Linked DNA regions of Homo sapiens: region 2 is linked to region 1. Evidence: fine-mapped expression QTL. A gene starts in region 1. The other region holds a variant in brackets. All regions are shown on one strand. Distances are from middle to middle.

The links. PIP is the estimated chance that this variant, and not a neighbour inherited with it, causes the effect.
Region 2: its variant is fine-mapped to the expression of ELAPOR1 in whole blood (INTERVAL, PIP 0.97).

What each region holds. Positions count from the first base shown.
Region 1 is chr1:109,111,442-109,116,814 of GRCh38, reverse strand. ELAPOR1 (endosome-lysosome associated apoptosis and autophagy regulator 1) reads right to left here and starts at 2,700. Exons shown (of 22, transcript NM_020775.5): 1 at 2,479-2,700. The coding sequence starts at 2,631. It overlaps CFAP276 (cilia and flagella associated protein 276), which reads left to right and starts at 4,068. Exons shown (of 5, transcript NM_001245025.3): 1 at 4,068-4,216. The coding sequence starts at 4,136. RefSeq lists a silencer at 2,879-2,948.
Region 2 is chr1:109,187,250-109,192,622 of GRCh38, reverse strand. ELAPOR1 (endosome-lysosome associated apoptosis and autophagy regulator 1) reads right to left here. Exons shown (of 22, transcript NM_020775.5): 9 at 4,269-4,446; 10 at 3,429-3,557; 11 at 2,941-3,031; 12 at 1,152-1,257; 13 at 760-897; 14 at 1-12. Among named protein-coding and RNA genes, the nearest start is that of SARS1, 24 kb to the left of the region's middle. The variant G/A (reference allele first, on the strand shown) is at 3,165.

The DNA.
Region 1 (5,373 bases):
GGAGGCTGAGGCAGGAGAATTGCTTGAGCCTGGGAGGTGGAAGCTGCAGTGAGCCGAGATCATGCCACTGCACTCCAGCCTGGCCTGGCAACAAAGCCAGACTCTGTCTCACCAAAAAAAAAAAAAAAAAAAAAGAACAGAGAAGAGCTGGTCTACCTTGAATTGGTTTTTCACCATTTGGGGTTGGAAGCCCCCAAACTTGTTTGATCAGTTCATATTGCCAAATGAATACTATAATAATGGGTTTATTCTCTCCCTGATTGTTTTGGAGTTGAGGGTGTTCAATGGCCACTGTTTGCTCAAGGAGAATGTAAACAGGACTTGCTGACGCCTGTGGCAAATGGGCATGCCTCCTAAGCCATTTCCAATCTGGCATGGGGTGTGGATCTAATGGGAAAGAAGCTGAACAGAGAAGGAGGGTGGGTAACTCTCTTTTGTGTTTCCAATGTATTTTCTATTTCAATACTCAAAGCAATCCTTTCTGAGGTAGGTGTTATTTTGATACCCATTCTACAAATCCAAAAACCACGTGGTAAGTAACAGGACTGAAACCCTGGTAGGTTGAGCTCCATAGCTTTCCACTACCTTAAGCTTACACTTTGTGGCAAGACCTTTTGCTTAGGCAAATATTGGTTATTCAAACAGGACCAAAGGCAAAATTCGTACACAAGTTCGAGTTCTCAAGTATCAATATTCTTCCCTTCCTCCAAACCAAGATAATAGAAGTGCTTAATTTCTGAAATGTCTCATATTTTCCATTGTTGACAAAGATCTCAACAAGAATTGGTAGTTAAACTGTATGATTCTTACCTTCCACTCAGGAAACTCCCTTGTTTGATTCTTAGGCAAGTGGGCTTTCTTGGTCTCATTATTTTGGTTGGTTAGACCACAGGCCATCAAGGCCAGTGAGCCAGTCACTGATAAGATCATACTGTTCCCTGCGATCTCTAAAACAGGTCATAATGCGGCTAGGTGGAAATGTAGATGGCCCAGGGCAGGTTGTCATTGGAGCTAATAAAGGTTATCAAAAGTCCCACTCACTGGGGTCACTTATGTCATATTCATGAATCTTCAAAATCAAGTATCTTTATTCACACAAAAATCCTCCCCCCCACACCTGACTTCTTTATGACCTGCTGTGCTGTAGACACAGAACATCTTTATAAGAATTTATCTCCATATGGGATGGAGTTGTTGCCAATCAGTTCACACTAACAATTTATAAAAAATATTCTGGGCTGGGCGCAGTGGCTCATTCTTATAATCCCAGCACTTTGGGAGGCCGAGGTGGGAAGTCGCTTGAGCCCAGGAGTTAGAGACTGGCCGGGGCAGTATATCGAAACCTCATTTCTATTTTAAAACATATATTTTTTAAAGTAAAGAAAATACATCTATATATATATTCTAACCTCTCAAAACCTTAGTCAAGCTTGATATTTGGGATTAAATTTACAGAGCTAGATGCTTGACTTTTTATGAAGTCCTTCACATTTCACAGAAATAACAGAACTTTTATTTTGCCTTCCCCAACGTAGTTCTTGTAAATATCTTATTGTTGCCTCTGCCATATGGTTTCTAAAAAAGTTGCTCAGAGCACAACCAAATATTGTTATTTCAATAACATAGAAATGACTTAGTTTTGTTGCTGCTAGTGCCCTTTTATGTTCCTCCAAGATGACTTTTCAAAAGCTATTTTTGGTTATAAGAGATTGACTACCTATTGTCTGAATTCTGCTTCCAACATATTGGAAATACCTTGAAAAAGACTTTGACATATGTTAAGTCAGAGAAGGAGACTAGAGGTTGGCAGAACACAAGATATTGAAGAACTCAAAATCTGCAAAAAGGTGAGTCGTGTACTGTCAGGTACACTAAACATAGTACGCTGCGGGGAGGCCAAGCTATAAGGAGGAGACACATTTTACAGTCTGCACTAACCGATGTTTAATAAACAAGGAACTAGAGAGCTGGAATCCTATCATCCCTCTCGCACATCTCCCACCTTCACACTCCGTTTTGTGTAGCCATGATAAAACCACTTCGCTCTGATACTTTTTTCTGGCCTTCCTAACTCCTTTCCTCTCCCACTACTCTTCTTTCCTCTTCCTATTTTGCTTCTCTGTGCATAATCTTTTCTTGTCAACCACTTTTAAGGTGAGTTCATCCTAACTGGAAAATAACTCGTCTGCCTCCCTCATTCTGAGTTCAGGTACCCAGGTAGCTCCCCTTCTTGGGGCTGGGACCTTTCTCGCTGAGCTCAGCATCCCAATCTGTGAGGATGATCTATCCGTGAGTCCTCCAATGTGCTGGCCTCCTCATGACGCCAGACTGGCTCCTCTTCCCTCCCCCCACGCCTCATCCCCAAAGAAATCTAAACTCCGTGGCGTCTGAAACTCTCTGCGCCTGGGTCCCCAAGGTCTCCGCCTGGATCCAAGACTTTTGTGACCAAAGCGGGATCGGGTAGGGGGGCGGCAGTACCTCTTTGCAGGCATGAAGCTCCGGTCCCGTTCCCTGGGTCACCTGGAAGGCGGTCCCAGCCCAGAGCAGCAGCCGCCACAGCCGGGGTATGCGCCTCTCAGTTCTTCCCCTGACTCTGGCGGAGAGATGGTGGCTGTGCCCAGGCTCAGCCATAGCGTTGTCCTGAGTGAGCGGCAGTAGCGGCTCAGGTGCTGCGGCTGCTGCTTCTGCTGGCAGAAGGCGGAAAAAAAGGGGAGGGAGGTACACAGGCGGAGGATGCAAGAGGCCAGGCTCGCTTCAGTCACCTCCCTGCGGCTACGCCAACACCGCCCATCCTTCCTCCTCCCTCTGTCCTCTCCTCCTACCCACGTCGCCTTGACAACCGCCTCCTCTCTGGCTCCGCGCGGGTGGGGCAGGGACCACGCGCGCCTCTGCAGCTCACCTGCGGGTCGCCATGGCAGCCGCCGCCGCTGGTGCGCGCGGCGTGGGCGCGGGAGAGCGCGCGCCCGGGGTGCGCAACCGGCCCAACAGGCAGGCCCGGGGCTCGTGTGAAGAACACAGTGGAAGCATCCTCCAAGCCAGCCAACAAATTTCCGTTTTCTACTGCCCTTTCGGGCCAGGGGTTATTTTATGAGCATCTCCGATGTTGCACACGTGGCGTGTGAACCGAGAGAAAGAAGATGGAGAGATCACCCTCCAGACGTCGTCGCCTGGAAGAGGCCCCAGTACGTGTTCCCTCCTACGAAGGCCACTCCTGGAGATCTTACATCCCGCCAAATCCATCCGTGCTTTTACAACCGGCTAGAAGAGAAGCCCTGACACTGTAGTTGATCCGAGTTTAAGCGAGGAGTTTGCCTTAGCCGCAATTTCCCAAGCGCCGCACGTGGGCCTCTCTCTCTCTCTCTCTCTCTCTCTCTCTCTCTCTCTCTCTCTCTCTCTCTTTCTCTCTCTCTCTCTCTCTCTCTGAGACAGGGTCTCACTCTCTCGCCCACACTGGAGTGCAGTGGCGCGATCTCGGCTAACTGCAACCTCCGCCTTCCGGGTTCAAGAGATTCTCCTGGATTAGCCTCCCGAGTAGCTGGGACTACGGGCGCGTGCCACCAAGCCCAGCTAATTTTTTTCCTACTTTTTGTAGAGACGGGGTTTCGCCATGTTGCCCAGACTGGTCTCGAACTCTTGGGCTTAAGCGATCCGCCCGCCTCCGCTTCCCAAAGTGCTGAGATTACAGGCGTGAACCACCGCGCCCGGCCCTCTTTGGTCTCTTGACATCCTCATTCTCTCATGGCTTTGAAAGCCTTTTGTTAGGTGCGAGGGAGAAGGAAATTTCTGGGTCATCTTTCAGGACTTCTTTCCTCAACTGAAGTCTTTTGCAGAAGTCCTGATGGTGAGCAGCCAGCACTTTTCCGCCGAGGCTCAGGAGTGCAATTCCAAGTCTCGGGCCCGCTCAGCGGAACGTTCCCTCTGCAGTCCCCGGAGCTTCCTCCCCAGGGGCCTCCCGTGGTCAGCCGCCAGGTGGCGCCCTCCTCTGAGGGAATTCCTCTGTCATAGATGGCTGGGCAGTTGCCTGGCAACCGAAACCAGCGCTCCAAACAATTGGGACCCGGGATCTTATGCCAGTGAGGCTGTGCTGCGGCTGAGCGGGCCTCCCATCCCTCTTAAAAGAGTTAGGCATTTAGCCATGCCTCCCACCCGGGACCCTTTCCAGCAGCCTACATTAGATAACGATGATTCCTACTTAGGAGAACTGCGGGCTTCCAAGGTACTGTGGTTTCTTGCGCAGATTCCCAGTAGGGTCGCCGGTAGTCTTCTTTCTGTCTGTGTGATGAGCAGAGATGGTAACATAAAGGACTCTGGTGAAGACACTCAGTCGGGTACCAGGGAAGTCTGTTTTCTGCCTGCCTCCCTATCTCCATATTCAAGTCGGCTAACGTTTCAGAGGCGTTTTTGAGCAGAGGAAAGTAGAGTTCTAGTCTAGAGGAACAAGGGGCTCTGGCAGCTCAAATCAATTGTGAGTATAAGTTATGGCAGTGCCCAGGTTCCTTCAAGCTACCCATTTCCCTATTTGGAAGACTGTTCTCTGAAGAGAAATGAGATATGGAGTGGGAGAGAATCCTCTGAAAGCCACCAGAGGTCATGCTTTACACATCTGTGTTCACACTGTCTCTGTCTTCTGGTTAACACCACAATATGTTTGTTATGTGTGTGTTTAGCATGATGGTGGACACTGATTTCGGAACTTAGATGATCTTTTTTCTGGTAGAAGTGATTGGGATATATGAAGTGGTGCACAATAAGATGAATTAAGTGGTGATTGTGGTCTAATAACAATATTGAGAGCCCCTTTTTATTTATTCAATACTTATTTACTATAAGCCAGACACTCTGCTAAACGCCAAGGATATATAAATAAATTAGATGTAGCTTCTGCTGTCAAGGAACTCTAGTAGTAAAGAGAGACCGACAATAGCAAAAATGCTTGCACAATAGCACATGTTGTGACAGAGTTGTGTGCAGGGTGCCGTGAGAACCAGGAACTTAAAGGAAAGCTTCACAGAGCAGATGCATTTTGATGTCCAAATATGAGTTAGGTAGGCCAGGTGAGGGAGTGGATAGAATGTGAGTTAGGAAGAAGGAAACAGGAACCAGATATGCAAGGCAAAGGAAGCAGCAGGTGCAAATACATGGAAAGGAGAGAGAGAATGGCTTATTTGGGGAACTGCAAATAGTCTAGAAGGGCTGGAGTGTAGGCGTGCAATGGAAGCACTCAGAAATCAGAGCTGGAGAGATGCCCTTGGTTGGCTGGGTGTGCTGTGTACACCATGCTAGCTAGCTATGGTTTCATCCTAGGGATGTGAGGAATCATTGTGGGATATTTTTTTTTTTTTGAGACAGGGTCTCCTTGCTCTGTCACCCCAG
Region 2 (5,373 bases), 76 kb before region 1:
GTACTTCCTGCTCTGGAGACAAGGAAACAAGAGGGGAGAGGGGAGAGGCCTGAGACAGCAGCAACAATTGAGGCCTCTAGAAAGAGCAAGGTACTTAATCTTCTATCCTGTGATACTTAAGAAGAATCTGAGAAGCATCTGACTCTTTTTACTCACTTACCAGTAGCTCTTCGTGTGCATTTGATGTCATTTTAAAATGAGACTGAACCATTTATAGGACATATAAAAATGTTAAGTACCATGGGGAAAATATAATATATACAGTTTTATGAAAAAAGCAAGTCTTTTCCTTATAAAAGAGAAAAAAATGTACTTGTGCAGAAACAAACAGTGTATAGGAGATTGTCCAGATGTTAACTGGTTTATCTCTGAGTAGTAGGATTATGGCTGATTTTATTTCTTATTTTTGTTTATTTTTATTTTCTGTGTCTTCTGCAATGAGCCTGTATTCCTTTGAGTTAAGAAACTAAAACCAGAGTTGTTATTATTAAAAACAACAACAAGTCTGGTAACACATGTATCAGGGCAGGGACTACAAGGAGGGCCAACTTATTTCTTATGGTGTCATCTTTCCAGGAAGTCAGCTGGACAAGACTAGGTGGTCCTCAGAGGGCTGGGTTAGGCAGTTTTCTGCTTGACCCCCTGAGATCCTTCTAACCCTCAGATTCTGAACTTCACACTCATACTTAAGCTAATGCTAGGAGTCCTCCTGGGTTCAGAGGGTCTCTCCTGGGGGTCTGAGGAAGGGGAGGAACTTACTGCCTCATGAAAAGTGGTCCTCTGGAAGGCCCAGGTGAAGCTCGTGGTAGTGTTCTCCTCAATGATGTAGGTATAGGACTGTTTGCCTTTGGAACCTTTCCACGTCTCCACAGGAGTGTTGGTCCTAGAATTCACACCCTGAACCCAGGACAGACAAGTGAAGCGGGTGCGATGGCCAGAGGGGAAGTGGGTGCCCATGTGGCTGCCATCCCAGGTGCCATCACGGTTGGTGAGACCCTTGTTAAACTGTGAAGTCCCTGCTGGTCAGTCTGGGCCTTTCCTCTGTGGAATCACTACAAGGGGGGGTGTCAGTCACGTGGACACACCAATGGGGCAGATGGGGCTAACCCTCCCCTGGAGGCCCTCTAGCGGGCAAAGAAAGGAAAACGTACCACCATGAAGTAGAGCTCACAGTTCACAGAACAGAGGGTCTCAAAGACAAATGTGATTCTGGCCACCTCTTTATTCTCTGTGTCTGCCATCACCGACTGCGGAGGTCTGTAGGGGCAGAAATTAAAAGTCAGTTCTAAAGGCCAGGCAGTGCTTATTGAAGAGCCCAGACAACAGCAGAGCGTCTGCTGGGGGACAGGGTTAAGTTCTGAGTATGATGGAAAGCGTGTGGACTAAATCCAATTCTGCCCTCCTAGCTATGTGACCTTGACCTAGCCAAACCACGGTTTCCTTATCTGTAAAATGGAGGTGATGAAATCTCTTTCTTACCTACCCCCCATCATCGCGGGGAGACCTGAAGGCATGACAGATGTGGCGGTCCTTTATAAAATGCTGTATCACCTCACTAGCAGAATATGGTCCACAGACCAGCAACATGGCCATCTCCCAGAGTTTATTAGAACTGCAGAACCTCAGGCTCCTCCCAGGCCCAGTGAATCAGAATCTGCATGTTAATACGATTCCCAGGCGATTCGTGTGCACATTTATGTTTGAGAAGCACGTCTATCATAAGACTGTAAATTGTTGACATTTACTCAGCAGCTGTCTCTCCAGCACTGGGGAGCTTTGCCGGGGTTAAAGGAGCAGAATTTGTGATCCAGCAAAGTCCTCCGTTTGGTCCTACTTTTGGGAAAGAGAGAGCCATGCCCAAGCGGGCTGGGGTAGTAGTGGGGATGGGGGATGAGGCAACACTTTACTATGACGATCAGATTTGCAAATTGGAAAGTACTTTTTGAATGTTATTCCAAAAAAAGCCTAAAAAGTTTGCTCACCTTGCAAACACAGGCTTCATTCATCTGGCTAGCTCTGAGTAATGTGTGTTAAGGGAAGGCAAACTGAGCAACATCCCAGGGATGGGAAGCAGGGACCTCGAAGAAGGAAATGAAGGTGTCAGACTGGCACTAGGGAAGCATATTCAGTGCCTGCTTCTTATCTTTAGAGCACATATGGGCAGAAGAGTTCACTTTGGCCTTGGAAATTCATTCACGGCTTTCCTTTTGGCTTTAGCCATTTGCCTGAATTCTGAGGACCTCCAGTTCTCAGCTTATCTCTATGCAGCTGTGTTAACCAGCGGGCTGGAAAAGCCATCTGAACCTCAGTTAGTCTTAAATCACACACTGTTTTTATGGATGAGGGGCCCGAAGCCTGAACAGGTGAAGTGACTTTTCCTAAGGTCGCACGGCCAGTAAGCGGCAAAGCACAAGTGCCCTGTCTTCCAGTCTGGTGTTCCTTCCACCACACCACACTGCCAGGAGGTGTGTGTGTGTGTGTGCGTGTTTGTTTGTTTGTTTAGTGGGAAACAAATTTCGTGTTGCCCTAGGTCTTCCTGGGATATGGGGACAAATACAGTAAGAATAATCCTTCCCAATCTTCTTGCCCCAAATAAAGATGAACTGTCTATGGGCATTTCTGACCCCATTATTTTTTATTTTTATTTTTTTTCTAATCTTAAGTGATGCTGTGAGGAGGAAGAATTTGAATAGCACGTGACTAATGGCTGGGAGAAGCTATACGGGAGAGAGAGCAGTCGGTAAATCAACATGGGCAGCAACTTGAAAAACGTGATAGCATTGGGTTACCTCGGTCAAACTGTACCCTCTGTTCTCAACTGACATTTGAAATGAAATGAAACACAACCCCGGAAGCCCTCTCCTCTACAATATTCCAAAATACGTGGGATTCGGATATGGCCAAGCTGGCCTGGACTCCCCTGGGCTTTGGATTCCTCACCTAAATCCTGGCACAACCAGAGTGAGAATCATGAAGTCATTGTCTGAGGCTCCAGCAGCTGTGTAAATGTGATCACCAGCCACCTCCCAGCCTGAAAAGGAAAGAGGAGAGTTAATGCCTTGTGCTCTTGGGTGCAAGGCAAATGTGCACCCAGATGACACTCTGGAAGGGAGGTTTGACACCATCTTTTGAGGCGCCCAGAACCACCACTGAACATGAACCGT[G/A]TTACTTATCCTGCCACTTTGGTCAAAAACCCTGAAGCTCTCAGAGCAAGACCTTTGAAGTGCACGCTCATGTTTCTAGCTCTGTTCCTTCCTCTAAAGCTGTCTTGGCAGAACATATGTCCATGAGGAGTGGAACTTTCAAGGGAATGCATGACATGGTTAGCTTATTTTTCTCAGACATCACTATTATGAAGAAATGTGAAGTTGGAAGAACTGAGGGTGTGCAGGGAGCTGACAGCTCATGGCACAGGGAGAGGCAATTACCTGTCATGCCCTTGTACTCGAAGTTGATCCCACTGAGAACGGTCGTTTCCATGTTTGTGGGCAGCGTGTTCCACCATTTGTATTCAAATCCCACAGCAGGTTCAGTCCCTGCAGGGCAGCGGGTACAGTCTGGGGAACCACAAACAAGATCCATGCATTCAGTGGGAAGGCTGCAGTCACTCTGACTGGAGCTGCTGCCACACAGACAAGTTGCAACAGTAGCGGGCAGCCCAGAAGCCTGGCTGCTGAGTACTGCTGCAGGAAGTTGTATCAAGTTGACTCAAAAACATTCTGACAATGTATTTAACTCAAGATGTAAACACTGAGCCTTCATTCCAATATGCCAACCATCCTATTTGCCCACCCCAATTTCCATTTCAAAACTTAAATGTACCTTCTAGTCTGATACATATAGTTCATATTATTGTCATATTATCATTAAATGCTTTCATTTTAACAGGTACTCAAATCCCCCCAAGGCAGCATGGCTTATAGGTTTTGGTTGTGTGGGGTTGGTCATCCCAGCCCTGTAAGCCTAGTCAGCATCTCTGCCATATGCTGGAAGCCCTGCTTTGAGGATTGGGCACCTTCAGTCCTGAGTCACATTTGCAGTTGGAGCAAGGAGGAAGGAAGGCAGCCTCAAGTATGACTCTGACCTGCAGACGAGGCCAGCCCTGACCTCTCTTCTCCTGAATTTAGTCCTCAAAGGTGGCCTGGTCCTTATTCCTTACTGCCTCCCTTGGAAGGGCAGAGTCTGCATTCAGCTGGCCACTGTTAGTGCCCACACAGCCCACCCACACAGTCGATGTGCTGCAGAGAGTGGGGTGGTGAGGAGGTTACCTGAGCCATTGGAGTAGGAACCATATGGGCAGGGCTGGCAGGTGCTGTTGTTGGTTTTGAAGAAGCCTGGGTTGCAGGGTGGGCAGTGGGTCTTCACACCAGAGGCAGGCAGCTTCACTGCCCCCTCAAGGTCCTCGCTACAGATTTTCGGCTTGGCCCATTTGTACATGAGTTGTGTCTGCAGAAATGGATTAAGCACAACTCAGCCTGTGTGAGATTTAGGACATCTTTGGGACTCTACCTTGAGGATAGGGGCTGGGGGCAGAGATCCAGATTCTGGGCCAGGTAAGAGCTCCTCTGGGGTGGGGAACTTTGTGTGGCTCACGGATGTATCCCAAGCACCTAGCCCAGTGCCTGAGTCATGGTTGTGTTCAATCACTATCTGCCAAATGAATGTTGCCTGGGTGACAAGGAATAGCTCTAATGAAGACTTTATGACAGAGAATGTGGGACCAGTTGTCTTAGAGAAAGCTCCGATTCCACTGTAGAATCTTATTGCTACCAAGGTCACAGGAAAAGCAGCTGGTGAAAATCCCAGAACACAGAAAGGCACAAGGGTGGAGGTGGCTCAGATGTCCCCCGGGGACTGAGGGGGTGGCTGAGATGTCCCCACTTATTTTTTGAGTGGTACATTCTTTGCTCTTTTATTTATTGGGTAAATCCTAATGCATCTATGTGCCAGACCTGGTGTCTCAGAGATGAATGAAACATGGCCCCTGCATTGGGTACAGAAGTGGAGATGACCCGCAGGAGACCCCGGCTGAGTCAGGGGTGAAGGTGGGCAGCTCCATTCTTCCCATGTGGCCCTCAGATCGAGTCACAGACAAAAACGTGCCCTTATAGGTTGAACTGAGGGGTTGATGAACATGATCTGTGCAGATACCATACATATGAAAAGAAGGATGAATAAGGCCTCTGTCCATATTTTTCAAGATAAGAAACAAGTCCTTAAGGAGGGACACAGACTGCCTTAACTGATGGGGAGCCCTGGGCTCCTCCTTCCCCTGCTCAGCTCGGCCCTCTTCCCTGCGGAGGGCTGCGACAGCCAGAGCCCCAGGCTTGAACCTCACCTGCCTCCTGTGAGTCTCAGGGAGAGGAGAGTCCT